2 linked regions of the Homo sapiens genome follow. The protein of the gene in region 2 interacts with the protein of the main gene of each other region in a pairwise test. Each region holds a gene or a part of one and is shown on either strand. Other genes may lie near its edges.

Region 1 (5,011 bases), on a different chromosome or scaffold from region 2:
GCTCTCAATCATACAGGGTTTATGGCTTAGTCCTGAGTTTTTTTTTTTTTTCCTTAAGAGACAAAGTCTCATTCTGTTGCCCAGGCTGTAATGCAGTAGCTATTCACAGGCACAATCATAACACAATACAGCCTCAAACTCCTGGGCTCAAGAGATCCTCCTGCCTCAGCCTCCAGAGTAGCAGGGACTACAGGCTCACACCACTGCACCTGGCCTGGGACCTCTTTTTTTATCTACACTCCCTCCCTTGGTAATTTCATCCAGTCTCATGGCTTTCAATATCATCCAAATGAACTGATTCTCAAATATGTACCTCTAGCCCAAACTTCTCCATGGAACTTCACATTCCTATACCAACTGCTTAACTGACATGTCTACTCAGATGTCTGTTATTAGACATCTCAAAGGTTAATATGCCCAAAACTGAACTCCTGATCTCTCCCTGGAAACTGCTTCACTCGAGATATTCCTTATCTCAGCTAACTGTAACTCCATCCTACCACTCGCCAGGAAAAATACTTTCTCTCATAATCCACATCCAATCTGTCGGGAAATCCTGATGGCTCTACCTTCAAATATATATCTCAAAACTGACAATTTCTCCCCACATCAACTGCAACTACCCTGGTCCAAACTATGAGTATCTCCCACCTAGACGACTGATATAGCCTGCTAATTGATCTCCCCATTACTATACTTACCCCCTACAGCTTATTCACAAAACTGCAGCCAAAGTGATCCTTTAAAAATGTGTTAGATCATGTCATTCTTCTGCTCAAACCTTGAAATGGTTCCCCATTTCATTCAGAGAAAGAGCAATCTCTACAATGTCCTATAAGGCCCTATGTGATCTGGTCTTGTGTTGCCTCCCAATTTTATCTCTTGCTACTTTCTCTTTTGCACTTTCCATTCCAACACTGGCCTCCTTCCTATTCGTCAAATAGGCCAGATGTGTTCCTGCGTTAGACAGGCTCTGTGCACTTTACTAGTTGCTCTGGTCTGGAACACTCTCCCTCAGATCTCCTCATGGGTCGCTTCCTCACCTCCTTCAAACCTTTGTTCAGATGTCTTTTTTTTTTTTTTTTTTTTCAGACAGTGTCTCTGTCACCCAGGCCGGAGTACAGTGGCACAATCTTAGCTCACTGCAACCTCCACCTCATGGTTCAAGTGATCCTGCCGCCTCAGCCTCCTGAGTAGCTAGGACTACAGGTACGTGCCACCATACCCATCTAATTTTTGTATTTTTAGTAGAGGTGGGGTTTCACCATGTCGGCCAGGCTGGTCTTGAATTCCTGGCCTCAAGAAATCCGCCCACCTAGCTAATTTTTATATTTTTAGTAGAGGCGGGGTTTCACCACGTGGGCCAGACTGGTCTTGAACTCCTGGCCTCAAGTGATCCGCCCGCCTTGGCCTCCCAAAGTGCTGGGATTCCAGGCATGAGCCACCACACCCAGCCAGATGTCTCTTTCTCATTAAGGCCAAATCTGGCTATCTTATTTTAAACTTCAATCTTTCCCTTCAATTCTCCACCCCCCATAACCCATCCTATTAGTCTCCCTAACACTTACGACTCTCTAACATTTTTTTTTTTTTTTGAGACAGAGTCTCGCCCTGTTGCCCAGGCTAGGGTGCAGTGACATGATTTCTGCTCACTGCAACCTCTGCCTCCCAGGTTCAAGCGTTTCTCCTGCCTTAGCCTCCCAAGTAGCTGGGACTATAGGCACGTATCACTGCGCCCAGCTAATTTTTGTATTTTTTAGTAGAGACGGGGTTTCCCCATGTTGGCCAGGCTGGTCTCAAACTCCTGACCTCAGGTGATTACAGGCGTAAGCCACCACGCCTGGCCCATATTATATTATTTACTAATCTATGGTGTTAAGTGTCTGTAGTAGGCAAGAAAATGGCCCCTCCAATGATATATTCACATCCTAATACCCAGAACCTGTGAATATTACCTACGTGGCAGCAGATATATATAAAGCTAAGGATCTTGAGAGGGAGTTTATCCTGGATTATCTACATGGGCCCTAAATGCCATTACACGTATCCTTTTTTTTTTTTTTTTTTTTTTTCCAGACGGCATCTCACTCTGTTACCCAGGCTGGAGTACAGTGGCACAGTCTCAGCTTACTGCAACCTCCGCCTTCTAGGTTCAAGGAATTCTCCTGCCTCAGCCTCACAAGTAGCTGGGATTACAGGTGTGCACCACCACATCAAACTAATTTTTATATTTTTGGTACAGATGGGGTTTCACCACGTTGGCCAGGCTAGTCTCAAACTCCGGACCTCAGGTGATCCGCCCACCCTGGCCTCCCAAAGTGCTGGCATTACAGGTATGAGCCACCACGCCTGCCATGTATCCTTATAAGAGGGACACAGAAGGAGACTGAATGCAGTCCCACAGAGAAGATGATATGAAGACAGAGGCAGAGGTTGTAGTGATGTGGCCACAAGCCCAGGGATATCAGAGTAGCCACCAGAAGCTGGAAGAGGAAAATAACAGATTATCTCCTAGAGCCCCCAGAGGGAGTATGGCCCCTGCTAACACTTCAACACATCTCTGGCCTCCAAAGCTGTGAGAGAAAAACTTTGTTGCTTTAAGCCACCAAGTTTGTAGTAACTTATTACTGTAGCCAAAATAAACTAATAGCACCTAAAATAGTACCTGGAATATGGCAGACACTTGATAAATACTTGTTCAAAGAAAGAAGGAATGAAAATAAACCCTGAAATACTACCATCTGATTATACAGTGTCAATATAATGCCTTTATTCTGACAAAACTATTACTGTTTCTATGGGTACACGTGTTATGTAATAGAAATTTCGCACAGGAAAACCACAGAAAGTTACAGGAAAACCCTCGAAAGTTATATGTTAAAGTCTTAAAAGGAGGGTGAGATGACAGAATTGGGACATTTTAATATATATTCATTGTAGTGATTGTGTAATTCAAAAATAATCAAATGTCTTTAAAAAGATTTTTTTTCAAAACAGGGTCTCAATTAGGTTGCCTAGGCTGGTCTCAAATTCCTAGGTTCAAGCAATCCTCCTAACTCAGCCTCCCAAGTAACTGGGATTACAGACACATGCTACTGTGCCTGGCTTAAATTTTTTTGGTTTTTCAAAAAACATCACTCCCTTCTCATCAATGTACTTTTAGCAATAGGTTCTACCTTACCTATAAATGGTTAACTACAATTCTATATTTTTAACTACAAACTTAAAAACTTTAAATGTATTTCTATTTGTATAAGAGTTATATTAAGACCACCAAAAAAAAGATGAAAAACCAGGGTATTCCTGAATCTGAAGTAGGCACTGAAACTAACATTTCATTATTTTGTCTTTTATTATTTTTGAGACAGGGTCTCACTCTGTTGCCCAGACTGGAATGCAGTGGCACGACCACAGTGCACTGTCGCCTCCACCTCTCAAGCTCAAGCAATCCTCCCACCTCAGCCTCCTGAGTACCTGGGACTACAAGCACACACCAATATGCCTGGCTAATTTTTAAACGTTTTGTAGAGATGGGGTCTCACTACATTGCTAGGGCTGGTCTCAAATTCCTGGGCTCAAGCAGTCCTCCTGCCTCAGCAACCTAAAGTGCTAGGATTACAGGTGTGTGTCACTGCGCCTGGCCCATTTCATTATTTTTAAAGTGAAGAAAAAAGAAAACCTACTAAGATTAGGCAAAGGTAAGAGATACTAGGAGGCCTTCTCCTCACTGAATGCTATATACCATTTACTTGGAGGCTTAAGAAAAACTGGTTCAGAGAGAAAAACTGAAAAATCCGGAAAAGTAAAATAATTTGTAGGGCTGAAAGACTTACACAAAAATGAAATAATGAAGAAAAAATATTTCCAACAAAAAGGGAATATCTTTCTACTAAGGAAAATAACTTTACCTGCAGCATGTAGTTGATCTGCCAAGTCATATAACAACTTAAAGTTCTCTCCACTCTTCAAGCCTCGACCTCATTTAAAAAGATGAAAAAAAAAAATTAGGCAAACATCAAATACATTCTGGAACAATTTTGCTATTTTATATACTGGAGTAAATTTTCATATTATGTAACTGCCATATTAAGCATGTCACCTCCTCTATAAACCTTTTCTGGCCTCTGACACTCCTATACTTCTATAAAGCATTCAACACTACTATGATTACCTAGTTAACTAATTGTGTAATTAATATGAGTTTTTTTCCCACTAGAATAAAAACTCTTTAATTTCAGGATCTATATCTATCTTGGTCACTGCCATATCTGCAATATTTAGCAAAACTCTACATATAATAGATGCTCAATAAATTTCTCTGAATGACTGAATAAAGTTATTATTTGAATGGGAGTCATCTCAAGGACTTTAAACTCCTCGAGAGGAAGAACATTCTGCCTTTTCATCTGTTTCTCCAGCACTTGGCAATAAGCCTGTCATAGAACAGATAACCAATATACATTTCTTGAATAAATAAGTGAATAAACAAGTCAGGGCCCAGCTCGGTGGCTCACACCTGTAATCCCAACACTTTGGGAGGCTGAAGTGGGCGGATCACCTGAGGTCAGGATTTCGAGACCAGCCTGACCAACATGCAGAACCTCCGTCTCTACTAAAAATACAAAATTATTATTTTTATTTATTTATTTATTTATTTTTTAGGAGGAGTTTCACTCTTGTTGCCCAGGCTGAAATGCAATGGTGCGATCTCGGCTCACTGCAACCTCTGCCTCCCAGGTTCAAGCAATTCTCCTGCCTCACCCTCCTGAGTAGCTGGGACTACTGGCATCCACCACCATGCCCAGCTAATTTTTTGTATTTTTAATAGAGACGGGGTTTCACTATGTTGGCCAGGCTGGTCTCGAACACTTGACCTCGGGTGATCCACCCGCCTCGGCTTCCCAAAGTGCTGGAATTACAGGTGTGAGTCACCGCGCTGGGCGTAGTGGCACATGCCTGTAATCCCAGCTACTCGGGAGGCTGAGGCAGGAGAATCGCTTGAACCTGGGAG
Region 2 (5,011 bases):
TAACTTAAAAGAATTTTTTAAAGTTGCTTAAAATTACAGTACTGATGAGGATTAGTACATTTGCCTGCCCATGTATATTCCTTTCATAGAGTCATTTCCCACTGCCCTAGCTGAGAGAACAACAAAGGTGGTGAACCCACTATCCTCATAGCAGCAGAGTAGACTGCAGTTGGACCCCTGAGCCAAAAGGAAGCTGTTTTCTGTTCTCTCCAGGACTTTGAGTTTGTACAGAGGAACTCTCCTGTAAATTCAGGAGGCCAGAATGGAGACACTACATAAAGTCAATGTGGCATAGCCCTGGTAGACCAGAAAAACCAGTCTTCAGAGAGAGAAAGGAATGAAGCAACCACAAAAAGGAATGGACCCAGGACAGATATAGACTCAAGAAGAAGAGCTGCAGCTGACTCTCTTGTGCCTGTTGCAGCTTCTTTAAGAGTCGAATGGCACCACCTTCTCGGTGTTCCATGAGGCCTTTCTGTAACTCCAGCAAATGCCTGCTTTCGGTTTGAGTAGAATTCTGTTCCTACAATCAAATGATCCTACAGATTTGGCATTGATTTGGCATTTGCTCTGCCAGTATTCACTGTCACATATAAGAAGTTATTTCAACACTTATCATAAATACTCAGAAATTCAAATTCTTAAATTAGAGAAACAAATTTACCTACATAGATTTTTATTTTACTTATTATGAAATACTTTGTTTTTCACTAAAGATCCTAAAATCAATCCAGAACATTTGTATTTGAAAAACATGGCACTTTCTTTTCTTCTTTTTCTTTTGAAAAATGTGACACTGTCTTTCTTTTCTGTGACAGTTTTTCTTTGTGTAAAACTCACAATTAGATAACAAATTTTATCTAGTAGAGATTTAAAAAAAACAAAACTTACCGACAAGAGGAACTCTGTGTGTGTGTGTGTGTGTGTGTGTGTAAATGCGGATGTTTCATTTCCCCTCTTTAGGAATCTATTAATTTTGAAGCTAGGACCCTTCACCAATATGAGTATGAAGAGGTGACATATTTCCCCTTCAATCACAGAATTGCTATCTGACAATCTGTGTGCATCGGTTTTTAAAACTGTGAAAACAGGGATAATACTATATATATATATGTATATATATATATATATATATATATATATACATATATATATATATATCCGATTTCAAGGAAATTATTTGTTTAACAATAAAACAATGGAAATTCAAAGAAATCACTTGTTCAATAATAAACCAACAAATTTGTTAATTACTAAACTCTAAAGATATCAAAAATTGATAACCTATAGAATGCAGCATTTTATTCATTGAAAATTTTTTACTTAAATGCTTAGCTAAAGTTAATGAGTTCATAGTACCTGTTGTTAAAATGGAAATGAAGGTAACAGCAATGAAGAAGATGACAAAAATCATTTCTATTCTCATTTGGAACCAGCGCAGTGTTGACAGGTACAAGAACCAGTTGGCAGTATGTAAATTCAGAGCTTTGTGGAACAGAGTTTCAAAGTAAGGCTGCCGTCCGAAGGCACGAAGTGTCCATAGTCCTTTTAAGCTTGTAACAAGATGAGTGAAAATTGGACTCCTGCCTGTGAAATATTTCCATAGAAAACATTGCAAATAACATAAACACAAAATGTAATTTCATAATATCTTGTACCTGAAAAAGACTAAATTAGAATAATCATATCACAAATGTCATTGGTTAAAAAGCTTTTTTTCACACTGGTGCCATTCTTTGAATAGATATGATTTGTTATTTTATTAATGAGTTACCCTCTTTTTTTACTTGGCTACCAGAGATGGGAACTTAAAAAATTACCACCAATATTTATTCCTCTTTCTTGGCTACCACTGGGAGTTTTCTGGCTAATTCTAAATTAATTCTTACTAAAAAAATTTTCTTTTAAGACAATTTTTTCAAGTATCTAAATTAAGGAAGTTTATGTGACTTGATTTAGCTAATAATCTACAAAGCAGAAATATACTGAAAAAGTATTGCCTGAAAATGCACCCACACTAAGGCTGTCACTGCAAAATGTGATTCCCTAACAGCTCAAGTAGAGTTTGGGGGCACACGAAATGGCAGCTCCAACACATGAAGAAAGGGTGTCTGAAGACAACAAGCCAAAGGGACAAATTTGGTCAAGTATCATTTGGGAACCCAGAGAAACCTTTAGTAATAGCAGCACTATCCTTGTTTAATTTGACTGATATAAGTTTATTATAAATGAATGTCCTGTACACCAACTGTGGTAAGATTCTATATACCTATTTTAAAACCAAAATGAAGTCACATGGTCATTAATTAAGAAAAAAAATCCATGTGTACTTTGTAATATAGTTTCCTTTTATATACACATGCATGTAGAAAAAAATTATTGTTATATGATGTAAAAGTTTAAAAGCAGAATTTTTTTTAAGTAGATTAACAATAAAGAATCTCAAATAGCTCTTATAGCTTTTTTACAAGATGAGTATCGCACATTCACTGTCATACCTTCAGATTCCAGTTGTTTGAGTTGCTGTGAGGTTTGGAGGAAATATGCTCTCAACATAATAAAAGCCACTATCACTGGCACTGTTGCAACAAAGATGTAGGGTTGTAAAACTGCGACAACTGCTATAGCTCCAATCACAATTAATAACAACTGTAAGATCAAAGAAAACATGTTGGTGAGTAAACATTTTCACATTGCAAAGTGGACAAAGTGTGTCAGTGATTTATTTCTTTTTTTTTTTTTGCATACTTTAAACACCTCAAACTTTTTTTTATTTTTTTTATTATACTTTAAGTTTTAGGGTACATGTGCACATTGTGCAGGTTAGTTACATATGTATACATGTGCCATGCTGGTGCACTGCACCCACTAACTCGTCATCTAGCATTAGGTATATCTCCCAGTGCTATCCCTCCCCCCTCCCCCCACCCCACAACAGTCCCCAGAGTGTGATATTCCCCTTCCTGTGTCCATGTGATCTCATTGTTCAATTCCCACCTATGAGTGAGAATATGCGGTGTTTGGTTTTTTGTTCTTGCGATAGTTTACTGAGAATGATGTTTTCCAATTTCATCCATGTCCCTACAAAGGACATGAACTCATCATTTTTTATGGCTGCATAGTGTTCCATGGTGTATATGTGCCACATTTTCTTAATCCAGTCTATCATTGTTGGACTAAATACTCTCCCCATTCTATTCCTAGTCAGAAAGTAGCCATTTGCAAGTACATTTTTCATAGGCTCTATGAAAATTTTAAAAATTGTTTAGGTCACTGATAACATTTTTGAAGTTTGAAAACATGGTGTTCTTTGATCTTTGGATATTTTCATTTCCCAGACACTTTAAAGTATTGCATGATAAATACATTTTAAGTGAATATTAATTTAAAATAAACTATTTTTAAATAATTTTAGTATGAAGGTGAATCTTAGGATTTATTTTGGTTAGACAGTTTTTGAAAGCTGGGCATTCGTCTTGGAGTCTTTTGATTCAGAAAGTTCTGCTTGAAATACAAGCTTGTCATTTAGGCAAGCTATCTAACCTTTCGGAGCATATTTTCTCATGCTTAACATTGAAATAAATCATACTTAATAAATTTCTATATTTCTACATTACACCAAATACATACATTTTTAAAAGGTACAAAGTCCGCTAACATGTACTTCACAATAATCCATTTGAATAAAGTATAAAGTAACTGTCTGCAGAAAGGATTAAAAAAAACCACTTTATAATATCCATATGCTGTTCAGTGAGCCAGTTCTCTACCCGTTACCATAAGTGACACATGTATTTTCAACTGATATAACTTTAGAACTGAAAGGGACCATTATCAGGTTTATATTCCCCATTCTACAAGTGACAAATCTGAGACCCTTCAAGATAAGTGTCTGCTCAAGGTAAAATAGTGGGAATCTGTAGAAAATAACCAAGATTTTCAATTTTCACTATACAGTGCTCCAATCCGGAAAGCAAATTTGTCAGAACATTGTCAAAGTTAGAAAATAGAATGAAGATTACATGAGGTATCAAAATACTCAAACTCAAAGAAGCAAAGAACAGAACCATGGGTAACAGGACAGGGGAGAGAGGGAAATGGGGAGATACTAATCAACAGGTATAAAATTTCAGTAGTGCAAAATGAATAAGTTCCAGAGATCTGCTGTGCAACATTTACCCATGGTGAACAATATTGTATTTTACACATAAAAATCTGTTAAGAGGGTAAATCTCATGTTAAGTGGACTTGCCACAATAAAATTCAAATTTTAAAAAGAGAAAAATAATAGAAAATAGAGTGAACAGAGACTTTTTTTTAAAAAAAGAAAATTTATAGGTATGCTTTATTTTGTGCAACAGATCTGCTTCTGAAATATCATGAATAGAATGAAATTTCATTTGTTTGAAATTAAGTATAACCAGAGGTAAAACATAAGTATAACCAGAGGAGCTCACAATTTGAAGGACCCCTGTGATTAATTATTTAACAAAATCAAAATTAACCAAATTTGTACTGTATTTGGATTGTCATATATTATGCTTCCTTAATATGAGACTCTCTTACAAATAAAATGGGTAAATTAATATAAAAGACCTCTGCCTAATCACTTGTGAAACAACAACAAATGAATCTTAGCATTAAAAGTTGAACAGGGCCTGGTGCAGTGGCTCACACCTATAATTCCAGCTCTTTAAGAGGCTGAGGCAGGTGGATCACTTGAGGTCAGGAGTTCAGGAGTTCAAGACCAGCCTGGCCAACGTGGTGAAACCCCATCTCTAGTAATAATACAAAAATTATCCAGGCATGGTGGTGCGCGCCTGTAATCCCAGCTACTCTGGAGGCTGATGCGAGAGAATCGCTTGAACCGAGGAGGTGGAGGTTGCAGTCAGCCAAGATTGCATCACTGCACTCCAGCCTGGGCAACAGAGTGAGACTCCATCCCAATTAAAAAAAAAAATTGAGCAGAAATGATTCAAACTGGCATAAAAGAAAAAATTTGAGAGCCATC

The links.
Region 1: the proteins of CFTR (region 2) and ETFA interact in binary tests that used the Homo sapiens proteins (3 or more experiments, as listed by UniProt).

The regions. Positions count from the first base shown.
Region 1 is NC_000015.10:76,279,849-76,284,859, forward strand, and holds part of ETFA (electron transfer flavoprotein subunit alpha, mitochondrial), read right to left. Parts: intron 3,978-5,011; coding exon 3,909-3,977; intron 1-3,908. UniProt on the Homo sapiens protein: Heterodimeric electron transfer flavoprotein that accepts electrons from several mitochondrial dehydrogenases, including acyl-CoA dehydrogenases, glutaryl-CoA and sarcosine dehydrogenase.
Region 2 is NC_000007.14:117,608,157-117,613,167, reverse strand, and holds part of CFTR (cystic fibrosis transmembrane conductance regulator), read right to left. Parts: intron 2,650-5,011; coding exon 2,499-2,649; intron 1,588-2,498; coding exon 1,360-1,587; intron 1-1,359. UniProt on the Homo sapiens protein: Epithelial ion channel that plays an important role in the regulation of epithelial ion and water transport and fluid homeostasis. Mediates the transport of chloride ions across the cell membrane.